Homo sapiens: one gene and its partners. The protein of the gene in region 3 purifies or fractionates together with the protein of the main gene of each other region. This does not show direct contact. Each region holds a gene or a part of one and is shown on either strand. Other genes may lie near its edges.

Region 1 (3,540 bases), on a different chromosome or scaffold from region 3:
TGTGTCTGTGTAGAAAGAAGTAGACATAGGAGACTTCATTTTGTTCTGTACTAAGAAAAATTCTTCTGCCTTGGGATGCTGTTGATCTATGACCTTACCCCCAACCCTGTGCTCTCTGAAACATGTGCTGTGTCCACTCAGGGTTAAATGGATTAAGGGCGGTGCAAGATGTGCTTTGTTAAACAGATGCTTGAAGGCAGCACGCTCGTTAAGAGTCATCACCACTCCCTAATCTCAAGTACCCAGGGACACAAACACTGCGGAAGGCCGCAGGGTCCTCTGCCTAGGAAAACCAGAGACCTTTGTTCACTTGTTTATCTGCTGACCTTCCCTCCACTATTGTCCTATGACCCTGCCAAATCCCCCTCTGCGAGAAACACCCAAGAATGATCAATTAAAAAAAAAAAATCTTAGAAGTGACCAGAAGGAGGAAGAAAACCAATTATCTACAAAGGAATGACAACTACATTGACAGCTGGCTTCTCATCAACAATGATAGATGCCGGAAGACAAAGACGTAAAATTATGAAAGTGTTTGTTGAGAAAAAAAAAAACAACCATCAACCTAGAATTGTATGCCCCGTTAAACTATCATTCAAAAATAAAAGTAAAACTTGTAAAAAAAAAAAAAAAAAAAAAAAAAGGAATGAACACACAGATGCCCATGTAGCTAACATTTCTGATGTTTATCTATGTAAAGATTCTTTGTTATTATTTAAGTCTCTTTAAAAGATAATACTGTTTAATGCAAAACAATAGTGTTTTGTGGGGTTTAAACACACAAAGAAGTGAAACATACAACAATTATTGCACAAAAACTAGGAGGGGAAAAATAAAAGTATACTTTTGTAAGGTTTGTACACCAGATGTAAAGTAATATATCACCGGAAGGTAGAGAGTGATAAGTTAAATATGTCTACTATAAACGCTAAAGCAACAAAGATAAAAGCCACAGGAAGATGAAATTGTTTTAAAAATACAGAATTAATTCAAAAGAAAGGATACAAAAGGGAAAAAGGAACAAATGAGACAAACAGAAAACAAACAGTAAGATGGTAAATTTAAACCAAACTATACCATTATCCATTAAATGTAAATGGTCTAAACACCAATTAAAAGACAGAGATAATTACAAAGGATCAAAAGAACAAGACCTAACTGTACACTATCTATAAGAAACTCGTATTAAATAGGAAGACACAGTTAACCAAGTAAGTAAAAAGTATAGAAAATGGCCTCTCTTAAGATAAGACTAAAGAAAATGGCTGTTGACATAGTTTGATTCACAAGTTGTCACAATTCAGGAAGTATTTTTATATTCAAGAGTCCTTTTCAAGCCTTGAGATCTAAGTAAATATTAATACTAACTTATACTCTTCATAAAAGTCACCACATATGTGTTTACACATCACCATTTCAATTATCCAAACAGTATCTCTAAATACAGCATATTAGAGATTTCAAAGGAAATTCTCAAGTGAGCTAAGAAATTAGCAATCTGTTCTGATCAATAACCATGTGTTCTCAAAGATGGATACATATACTCAAAATTTTACCTCTATATAATGTGTGATTTTAATAAAATACTATCTATTAAGACAACAAAGTCTGAGCCAGATGACAGAAACAAAATGCAACCACATCTCACCACATCCTTTTCCTTTGGGAAGGAACTGGGGATTAAAAAAATGAATATACTACGCTCATGAGAGACAAGTATGCTAGGGAAAGAGTGGGAATACATTTGTGAAATGTCATGGTAGGTTGGATATTACACCTATAAATGTTTGCCCTACCTTCTCAATTTTCTACATGTGAATTGGTATTTCACCTAGGTTGTCAGGTTTATATATGCAGTTTTTCATATCATTCCATTATACTTTTGATATGAGTCTCCAGTGACATCCTGCATTTCACTCCTGCTACTGATAAATCTGTCTTCTTTTTGTCAGTCTTGCTAGAGGTTTGCAATTTTATTAATCTTCTTAAAGAACCAACATTTTGTCTCACTCATTTTCTCTATTTTTTCTGTTATCAATTTCATTGATTTTTGCTCTTTATTATTTCCTTCCTTCTACTTGCTCTGGTTTTATTTTGCTCTTCTTTTTACAGATTCTTAAAGTGGGAGCTTAGATTGTCCATTTGAGACTTTTCCTGTTTTCTGATGTATGCATTTCATTCTATAAATTTTCCTCTGAAATTTAACTGCAGACTCAGAAAAAGAATAAGATATGGCCACAAGTTTGGAAATAAATAGCAGAAACTTTTAAAATGACCAAATGGGAAACACAACAATTTACCAAGAAAATTCTCCAAGGTAAGATACAGAAAATATTCAAACTCAGCTTAAACTCAAAACAAAATGACTTAGACTGAGTGACTTCAAGTAAATAACCATTTAGTCAGCCATGTAGTAAGAAGGAAAAACCCTGCATGTGGAATATAGCCCACTCAATCTGCATTACAGATAATACGAGACAGGGAGCAGGCAATGCAGTGGGGCACAGAAGAGTTAACAGAGCCACATTTTTCCAGTTAGTAGTCTTAGAGGAACTTCTTTACTACCCAACCAGTTTCACGGATTCCTAAATGCTGCCTAACAGGAGCTGAGGCTGGGCATATGTGACGGATAAATGTACAACCATCATGATTTCATTTCTGCAGGTTGCCCCACCCCATGGAGAAATACTAATTTCTAATATAATATATGGAAGAATAAAATATCTTCTTTCTTACCCTCTGAGCTTTTGCGAGTTCTTCTTTTAATCGTTCATAGCCCTTTTCTCTAACTTCCAAAACAGATGGGCTTCGTAAACGAGACAGACTATCAGTACTCAACCCAAAAATATCATCACTGCCATCGCAAGCCTCTGTTATAGTAGCACCCTGTAAAAACTCTCTCTCTGCATTATAGTTGTCCTTTCTTGTAGTTAATTTAGTTAATCCAGCTGTGACTCCAGAGGTAGAGCAAGGGGCTGGGTCTGTAACATGAAAGCTGTAAAGGAGAGAGACATTTTTCAGAAAATATCAGCATATGCTCCAATAGAACTGGCTTAAACACACAGCTCTAGAACTGTACTACCCAATTTGGTAGCTTCTATATTTAAATAAATAGTATGTCCTCAGTCATATCAGCCACATTTCAAGTGCTCAATAGCTACATGTGGTTAATACCTATCATTCATATTAGATAGCACAGAAATAGAACATTTTCATCAACACAGAAAGTTCTACAGGACAGTGCTACTCAAGAGCAGGGGTTAACAAACTATAGCCTACAGGCTAAACCAAGCCTTCCACCCGTTTTTATAAGGTATCAATGAGCCAAGTATAGTTTTTACAATTTCAAATAGTTGAAAAGAAATCTTTAAAAGAATATTTTGTGACACATGAAAATTAAATGAAATTCAAAATTCTGCATCCATATATGAAGTTTTATTGGAACACAACCACTCTCATTCATTTACATACTGTCTATGGCTGCTTTCAAACTCTAAAGGCAGAGTTGAATAGTTGCAACAGAGACTGCATGGCTTGCAA
Region 2 (3,540 bases), on a different chromosome or scaffold from region 3:
CCAATATCACACATACACACACGTGCATGCACACACACATGCACACAAACATGCACACACACACATTACTTCCTTCTGCTTATGAAAGCTAGCATTATCAATATCTAAAGGTAAAATTTTTTCATTATTAATTTATTATATTTTTTTAAAGACTCACATAGTCTTCTGCACAGGGCATTCTTTTTGCTTCAGGATGTTTACAACATTTGCTGCCCACTTTTCCTAGGTTTCTTGAGACCTCTACAAGAGTTGGAGTTGACACTTGGGGTACTTTCTTGGTGTAACGAACTAATAGCCTGAAAAAAAGAAGTCATGTGTTTTCAGCAAGGCAAGAAACTGTCTAACATAGTAGATAAAACAGAGAACACTTGGCCGGAATCAACTAAGATGTTGCTATGTTCCATTCATCATATTATCTCCATCTGCAGAGTAGTGGGTTAGTGGAGGGTAGAAAACATTCTCCTGAACAACTAGTTAAACTTGGCTTTGAGTTCCACCTGTACCACTTGCATAATCTTGGGAAAGTGAGTTGCCTAATTCAGTGACATTAATAAATTTATTAATTTCTTCTTTCAATAAAACCTGGAGAGAGCTTCATATGTATCAGCATATGCTAAACTTGAAAGATACAAGTAGAAAATGGAAGGAAATATATCTGACTCAATAGGGATAGTTCAAGGGTTAAATTAAAAGTAGTAAAGTATTATAATTAATCTGACATGGTACCTAATATATAATAATCATGTATTAAGAATGCCAGTCACCATTAAAAGTCAATGTATGACTTTAATCTACTCGAGGAAAGAAACTATGTCTTGTTCACTGTTATTATCTCTAAAATCCATAATCAGAAGAGCACCATGTGTATGAGCCACACAATAAATATCTACTGTATAATATGTCTCTTCTTGTTTTTAACCTTCATAGATAAGACTCTATTGAATTGGGACATTAGTCCAGCAAGCCATTCTGTCTCTGTCTCTTCTATGGAGGGAAAGGTTTAACCATCAAAGACTAGGTGCATCTCCCAAACAACCTGAATTTAATATTCAAATATGTATCTAAATTCATTTGTTACATTTTTGTGTTCAGCTTACATATTACTTTTTGAGCGACATCTATTCAAGGCCTACTACTTGCTGCTCTACAAAATATTGCCATGCTCTATTTGCCCATTAACTATTTCTTAACCTTCAAGGGACATGCTCAGTTCTGATATACCAAGATTTGGTATTTACCCTCCCAGCCTACATACTTCCAATCTTAAGAGAACAATTTTTAGACTACATTCAAATATAGACCTCTCCACCCCATCAACTATTTTATCTCTCCTCTCCTATCTTTCTTGACAAAGAGTGATTAGAAATATGCAATGTATTTTCATTCTTAAAAGTTCTATGCTAGGTGGCTCATATATTAAGTCTTAAATAATTACAAATTGATAAAAAAAATCAGTCAATAAAAATTACTTACGCATTCTGGAATTTGTACTCTCCAAGCTGCTCAAAAAGCTCACAATTTTGTTTGATTAAATTCTGAGGCTCTTCCACAAGAGGTTTAAATTCATCGAACTGAAACATAAAAGAATTGTGTTAATAGTATTATGCCTCAGGATCAGATGCAGGTTGTTTTTCACCCCTCTGGTCAGAATGATATCCTTTCTTCTTCCTACTCAAAGCCACATGAATAGATGAATATCAATGCCGCTCTGTCACAATACATTCGAACTATTTATTTGGTGAGCTTGCATCATGTAAGTGGTTAAGAATATTCAGGCTCTGGAGTTCAATGACCAGTATTTGAGCCAAGTCATGTAACTCATTCTTCAGTTGTGCAATTTTACTTACCATCTCCACATTTCAGAATCCTTATCCCTAAAATAGGGGCAAAGATGGCACTCATCTCATAGAGCTGCTCTGTAAACCAGGTAAGCTAATGAAATTAAACAGTGCCTTGCATATAATAAAAGTTTAATAAATGATGGCTATGATTGTACATATTATTATTATTAGTTCACCTTTCCAGTTAGATTCCAGGCTCTCCAAAATGAGAGATTTTACGTTGGTCATTGTTTGTGCATGGTGCCTGGCATACAGTAGCTTCTTGAAAGCAGGAAAAATGAGTTTTCTCTGATTCTGAATAGTTCAGAAACCATTACATATGCTAGTGGGAACCCTAAAAATCCTCCAGAACAGATTTCCTCTCCTAACTTAATTTCTTGTAAAACTATTCCTAAACATCCTCAAAAAGATTTGAAAATATTCTAAAGGGATAGGTTCTATAATTTGCCATAAGATACTAATTCTAGTACTTGATTAATCCTGGAATCAGGTTAACTCACTTTACATCTAAGTTAAATATCTTCTAATTAACATTTAAATTTAATTTTTTTTTGTTCTCAGGATTGTGAAAAAGAGAAAAAAAGATCAAAATTTTTTAGAGATTGCTCTATTCAGATCTTTCTATTCTAACTAGTCTAAATTTTGTTAATCATTCTAAGGCTACTTTTTCTTTCATGTTTAAGATTCCAGAATTGAAACCATCTCAAGAAAAGATCTAAATTGCACTGTATATCATTTTACATTCTTGCATTATTTTTCTTTCTCATTATTGGAATCATCAGTCAAAGAACTACATTTTTTTCCAACAATAAACCTACCACTTTGGCATAGCATTCATGAGGATCTGCAGCGGCACAGCACTTCTCTAGAGTGGTTTCATATGTCTTGGCAAGTCTCAGCAGCAGCACGACAGAGTAATCAGGATGCCTTCTTGCATATTCATACAAAAACCTAATTAAGATGAAAATAAAATAGACTTTGTTGGACAAATGAGCACAAAAAATATCACAAAGCTAATCTCAAAAGTAACTCATATTCCAAAAGTCTTAATTTGACTAAACCCCATGCAGTAAAGCTTAGTAGCTAAGGACTTGGGGTCCAGAGTTAAAGTTACCAAGGCTCAATTCCTAGCTCTGCTACTTATATCACTGCATCACCTTAGGCAACTTATTTAAATGATCAGAGCCTTAGTCTCCTTCTCGGTAGAATGGAAATAATAATAGTATCTGTCGGCTGGGCACAGTGGCTCATGCCTGTAATCCCAGCACTTTAGGAGGCTGAGGCAGGCATATCACCAGAGGTCAGGAGTTTGAGACCAGTCTGACCAACATGGTGAAACCCCATCTCTACTAAAAATACAAAATTAGCCAGGCATGGTGGTGCATGCCTGTAATCCCAGGAGGCTGAGGCAGGAGAATCGCTTGAACCTGGGAGGCGGAGGTTGTGGTGAGCCGAGATGGCACCATTGCACTCCAGCCTGGGCAACAAGAGTAAAACTCTGTCTCAAAAAATAAATAGTATCTGTCTCGGAAGGTGGATTATGAGAACTATATGACATAATCTACACAAAGCACACACTGCTTGGCACATATGAAGTCTTTGATGAATGATACTTGTTATTTTTATTAACATTTTGTTTGATTTAAACTACATCTCAAAAGGATTCTGATAAATAGATGGGCAGAGATATGTTCTTAAA
Region 3 (3,500 bases):
AAGAAAAAAAAAAACAAGCTTGTAAAGGGTCTGGATAGATTCTATAAACCAGAATCACACATTAGATATGAGGCTGGACTGGATGACTTCTAAAGTTCCAAAGGAATCTGAAGTCTTATGCCCAAATGAGAGCACAGAACTCACAGTTTCTTCAGAGTGGCCATGGAAATTATATTGGGAACGCTGTATTATGATTCAAAATCATTTAAACACAAATTCAAAAGAACACCCTTTGATACTCCTCAAGGTCAGATAGATACAAATAGTAATCTGCTTTCTTAAAAGAAGAAGAATGAATCTACTCTTTTAAAGACAAAGGAAGAAAAGGGGGGAGAACAACACTACAGATCCAAGCCAAGCTGTCCCTCTTTCACACCCTTCTCTTCCTGCCTCCTGTGCACTTGTAAAGGTTTGGAAATGTTACTTGCTTCTCACCAGGGTTCTCTCCAGGCCTGGCTGTGCACAGTGCCTGACAGCTACAAGCTCTCAGCAGGTAGAGCACCTGCAGGGTTAACCTGAGTTAAATGCAGTCTCTTCCCCTCCCTCCTGCCTGGCAGGAAGCTACAGTAAATAACACTGAGAACAGTCTACAGGAAGTCGCTTAACATACAGCTATGAGACAGGGACAGAGTAAAAGGAGAGTAGAGTCTTGGCAAAAGAGGGAAAGTAAACGCAGCTGTGACCATGAGGAGTAGTAGTCAATAAACTGGTGCTTTCTTTTTACCACCTTCTAAAAAATCAGACATTTATTTCTCATTTCCAATAAGTATATCAATTACTCCTGCCGAAATCCATACATGTGGAATTTTAAAGTCATAAAGAGACTATTTTACTTTCTAACTTTTAAGAAAAAGTATTTTTTAGCCCAGTACGGTGTCCTGCAGAGAATTTTTTCCCCCAAAGTATCATTCTTGATATGAGTTTTCACGTAAAACTAGAGAATGTGACATTGCAATTCTGTTATCCTAAAAATATTACCCTACATTATAGTGCTCATCAATTTAGGACTACAATCTAGAGAGTAGCAGTAGAATTTTAACACACTGATCACAAAAGAGCTTTATCGGCCTGGTGCCTCCATCCCAGGCTTTTTTTCCCCGCTTAGTTGTAATTTCCAAGACTTCACTTACGCACTCTTTAAACAAGGTCTGCAGCCCCATTTCCAAGATCAGAAAGGGATGTGACAGTGGCCTTCTGCTTTTGGTTACATGGACAGGTGCCCATTCCAACAAGGATCTGAGAAGACGACTTAGATTCCACACCGCTGGGTGGGCCACTGCATCTGAACTGACTGAAGCCTGCATATTCCCACATGCCCTCTATCCCTTCCCCTTTTATTCCTTGACTAGATATAAATTCTGTCATTACATGGAGTAGGTTCTTCAGTAAGGGAAAAGAAATACAGCGGGTTCAGAATTTCAGCCTCTGCTTTTACAGCTTTAACCACTCAGATGAATCACATACTCAGATTCATTTCCTTAAACGTATTGGAATCGTCATCTGGGCTATGAAAATGTCACACCTTGACAGCAAACAGCCAATACGTGTGGCAGTAATTATAAAGGTTAATGCTGAAATAGCGTTTCACATTTTTTATTTTTAAAAACTACTACTCTAAAAGATAAAGCCTTCAGGTTTTTTGTTACCATGCTTAATAAATTGTTGATTGGTTTTTTGGAAAACAAATTCATAGCATGTTGTATTTATATAAGTTTCACATCAGAAGTAAAACAAAGAATAAATTCTAGTTAATGATGTTCATACTGAAGTATTTAGGACAAGTGTGATATATTCTGAAATGCCTCAAAAAATAAGATGACTAAATTATAATAGAGAAAGGAGGGAGGGAGAAAGAGAAAGAGAGAGAGAGGAGAGAGAGATGAGTATAAGATAAAGCATGCATAGTAAAACATCATGGTGGAATTAGGCAGCGAATACATGTGTGTTCGCTGTACAATTATTTTAAGTTTGCTGATTTTTGACATTTTTGTCATAGATATGCTAGGAAAAATATCTAGAAATAGAAAAGTAATATTCCAAATACACAAGCAATGTAAAATCCCTAACAATTAAGCACAAATCACAGCCAGAACTCAATGTTTTCACATTGATGTCGATAGAAGCACAGAAATATTTCAAAAAAAAAACTTCACTTGTGGTTTCAATCTAGTCAAATCTGAATAGCTGGAGATGTACACTCAGAAATTGCTGACGCTATACCCAGTAGCCACAGGAATAAGATGTGCATTGAAATAACTGAACTGACCATAAGCTTGGGATTTTGAAAGAAGGTTCCTTCCCGCAACAGAATGTCTCTAACATGTTCCTTTCACACTTGCTCTGTCCTGGGTTAGCTCTGACTCTGAAAGGACCAAAAGAGGATTTCTACCTGCATGTTAGGTGGTGGTATATTACTCAATCTACAAAGTTTAACATAATATTCTATCATGATAGATAGCAATCATTTCTTCTCATCTATAGAAATAATTGTAAAAATATTTTTCTTTTTTTGCTTAAGAGAGTTTTTTTAATCTTTTGAAAAAAGCCAAGGATGAAAGTTACTCAGAAACTAGAAGATTTTTTTTTTTTTTTGCAGAATCTTATATTCCTTTCTATGTTTAGATATATCAGTTTATAGAACTCTTGAACACAAATTAAGCCTGAATCTGGAGAGAGAAGAGCCAGGATAGATTATCACTGATAAAACAGGCCACAATTAACTGTCACCTCTCAGTCCTTTCCAGAAATGAAATTTTTCAAAAATGAAACTATCACCATCATGAAGGAGAAAAAAATAACAAAACCCCCAATTATACTCCAGTCTCTATGAAAATCCACTTCTAAGTGAAATTTTTGCCTAGTTTTTGCTCCATTTTTCTATTCTCTCCTGTTCCCAGTTCTCCCTTAATATGTGAACAAATAAACTGACAGCCAAAACACAACACACCTTCACGCCCCCCTCTCAACGTGATATCAGAGGAGCAGCTTGTCAATGACCTCGAGCCCAAAGAGTCCAAGCTTTCAAAGGAATCTTCTCTCTTATGGTGCCTTGGAGGAGCAAGAAATTCTCCACGTTCAGGACACCAGATGTCACCGTAGCCACTGTCCCTGCCACTTCTTTTCAGGAAGCTGGAGTCTTCGAGTGCCTAAAGAAAACGTTTTTTAAAGAATAGTAAGTTAAATAAACTTCCAAAAAATATAATCAATCGGTTATTACTTGCTTGTTTGCCTAATTTAAGTTGGGTTTTATTTGACATGTAAGGCATGAGGTTTCTCTGTCGGACACAGCAAAAAGCTGATGAAAAACAGAAAATAAATTTGTAATTGTTTGCCCACAACTGATACAATAAGGGGGTATTCAATATTCAAAGTAATAATAAGGAGATATTCAATATTATTTAATAAACTAGTACATATGTTCTATTTAAAAATAAGGAAAATTACTAGTTTAATGAAAGTTCATAGAGTAACATTGAAATGCTAAACTCAGTTATTACAGT
Region 4 (2,621 bases), on a different chromosome or scaffold from region 3:
GAACTCCTGACCTCAGGTGATCTGCCCACTTTGGCCTCCCAAAGTGCTGGGATTACAGGCACAAGCCACTGTGCCCGGCCTTGTTTACCTTTCTGTTACATTAGCAACAACATATCGTCATGAATCAGAATTTACACCACTTGTACAATAAAAGATCAGAATCCGTTGCATGCCTAGCATGGCACGTGGGACGTGTTGCCAAAGACCAGTGCAGTTTAATGTACTTCTTCAAGCTAAGTAACAACATCCATCACACAGATAATGTGTTCATAGAATAAAATTCAACTCTTCTATATTTTAAATGTATTGCTTTCCCAGCTAATGTGTGCATAAAGAAACACATACCTTACTGCATCACAAATTTATTTTTTACAAGTTAGTCACTGTTACTCAATGTGGTAGTTTCTCTCTGTAATCCAATGCACTTTATACATTTAGAAGCAATTTTCTGATAAATGTTTCATAAACTTCATGAAACCAACGAAATGGCCTGTAGCACAAAAATGTTTAAGCATTGTTTTTGCCACAAGTTTCCTTCAGCTTTAAAGGATTATGCAATCTTTATATTCAAATATACGATTGTAGGTATATTCTATTCTAATTCTAAAATAAATAAATATGAGTCTAAACCTCACTTTTTCAAAAATTCAGTTACAGAAAACATTATAAATGATAAAAAATGAGGATTAGATGGTAAGAATTTTATAGTTATATAAATATATTTTAATAAAAATTTAAAAATAGTTATACTTTGAAAAATGAAGCCACAAATAAAAATTTGTTGACTAGAATTAACAAAATTTCCTTTCCTGTAAATTATTTCTAGTTTGCAAAGTCAGTTAGTCTAAAGATTTCTTATTCTTTTAGTTGTGCTTAGGTGGGTTTTGAAAAGATTGCTTTATTTTAGAGTACTAGCATGATTCTTAAAAGCATACTTTTATTAATCACAAAAGCACAAAATTATGTCACATGTAATTTTATTGATTCAAACATATCTTATTATACCTACCACTACCATTAACTATTACCACCAGAAACCACCATTTTCACAAAAATTTTATGTACACATTATGTACATGTTCTTATTCTCATTCTCACCTGTGTTTGTGATAAACAAAATACAGAGTTGAAAAATTATGATTCAGCCTTGCTCCTACCCCAAATTAGTGTACATGTCTCAGATTCTTGGACTGAAAATAGAAAAATTTGACAAAGCAGCTGTGATATTCTTTGCTCATTGACCAGGAATTTTTCTTTACAGGTGTGGGGATATTTCTAGAATGCAGTTGACTGAATAGCAATCTTCATGTTCTCAATGTTGTTTTACATGTAATCATTGTCCTTAAGTCTCATTTGAATTAGGAAACTTATGTTGTAAGGAAATACTTGTGCTGCCTGATAGAAGGTGTCCTTCATGAAGGGTCTGGGGAGGGAGTAGGGGAGATGGGAGATGCATGGGTCTTGGCCCTAGAACAAAGGTAGTGGGGGCAGTTTGCATGCTTGTGACATCTGAGATCAATGACTAGGAAAAGGACACACAACCAGTGTCCCAGGGAAGAGTCACTGTGGATTAATAACTGCATAAGTCTATTTGACTTCTGGCCCTTGGCAGCTAGACAGGAGGGATAATGCTCTAATCCCAAGCTGCTCAAAAATGTGATCCTTTGGGCACAGCCTTGGTGTACCTTGGGCGTCTGTTAAAATCCAGAAGTTCTAATCTCTCCCCAGACCTGCTGAATGAAACTCTGAATTTTAACAAGATCCCCGAGTGAGTTTTAGACACATTACCATTTGAAAACCTCTGACCTTGTTCAGAGATTGGACTTCTGAACGTGGGGAAAAGGAGGAGATGATTACGAGCTCCTTGTCAGGGTGGGGAGGCTGGAACAAGAGTCCACTTCTGGTGACCCAGAGCAAAGGAGCAGAAGAAGGCAAGAGGACAGTAGAGTCGCTCAGTGCTTACTGGAGAGGAGGAGTCATATCCTGCATGTCCTCTTCTGCCCACCCACCTCAACCTATGGTGTGGAGTTGCTGCTTTCTCTTCTGAGAACTCCCCTCCCTCCATCCTAAACTAAACATGCTCAGGACCTTGGAAGGACTCTAACTGCTTCTCTACTAGCTCTTACACTTTTTTCTTTTTCCCTCTTTCTCACTTCCTATTCCTTCTTCCTTTCCTTCTTATTTATCCTAGACTTCTCTGGATTCGAACTTCTTCATCTGGAAAATGAGAAGTCATCTGTCCCAAGCTCCCACAGTTGTTCTGAGTCTCAAGTAGCATAACATAAGTGAGAATGTTTCATTAAGTACACTGTACATTATTAAAGTGAGAGATTAAATTATGTTTATAATCAAGGAGTTGAATTATCTTTTGAAGTCACGCCCCCAGTCCTCTACTTACCACCATGCATTCTTTCAATTCTGTTTGAACTGCAAGCACTGCAGTGACTTCGTCATTTGGACGTACTGACTTGGGAATGTCAAAATTCTTTATTATGATCTTCCGACTGATTGTGGGAAGAGAGAATCAGAACACCAGGATCAGAGACCAATCTTTGAGTGAGGGGGGAGCCATGAACAGGGCAAGGGGCACAGGATGGGCAAGGGAGGGAAATTATGGGGCT

What was found. Proteins that work in one complex are often made in the same cells at the same time.
Region 1: the proteins of LMO7 (region 3) and RAB3IP purify together in Homo sapiens (affinity purification with mass spectrometry, with the first as the bait; one large-scale study listed by BioGRID). This does not show direct contact.
Region 2: the proteins of LMO7 (region 3) and ALB purify together in Homo sapiens (affinity purification with mass spectrometry, with the first as the bait; one large-scale study listed by BioGRID). This does not show direct contact.
Region 4: the proteins of LMO7 (region 3) and PIP purify together in Homo sapiens (co-immunoprecipitation; one large-scale study listed by IntAct). This does not show direct contact.

Annotation. Positions count from the first base shown.
Region 1 is NC_000012.12:69,755,860-69,759,399, reverse strand, and holds part of RAB3IP (rab-3A-interacting protein isoform alpha 1), read right to left. Parts: intron 2,996-3,540; coding exon 2,737-2,995; intron 1-2,736. UniProt on the Homo sapiens protein: Guanine nucleotide exchange factor (GEF) which may activate RAB8A and RAB8B. Promotes the exchange of GDP to GTP, converting inactive GDP-bound Rab proteins into their active GTP-bound form.
Region 2 is NC_000004.12:73,414,287-73,417,826, reverse strand, and holds part of ALB (albumin preproprotein), read right to left. Parts: intron 2,793-3,540; coding exon 2,660-2,792; intron 1,572-2,659; coding exon 1,474-1,571; intron 297-1,473; coding exon 158-296; intron 1-157. UniProt on the Homo sapiens protein: Binds water, Ca(2+), Na(+), K(+), fatty acids, hormones, bilirubin and drugs. Its main function is the regulation of the colloidal osmotic pressure of blood. Major zinc transporter in plasma, typically binds about 80% of all plasma zinc.
Region 3 is NC_000013.11:75,800,330-75,803,829, reverse strand, and holds part of LMO7 (LIM domain only protein 7), read right to left. Parts: intron 3,147-3,500; coding exon 2,948-3,146; intron 1-2,947.
Region 4 is NC_000007.14:143,135,077-143,137,697, reverse strand, and holds part of PIP (prolactin-inducible protein precursor), read right to left. Parts: intron 2,505-2,621; coding exon 2,399-2,504; intron 1-2,398.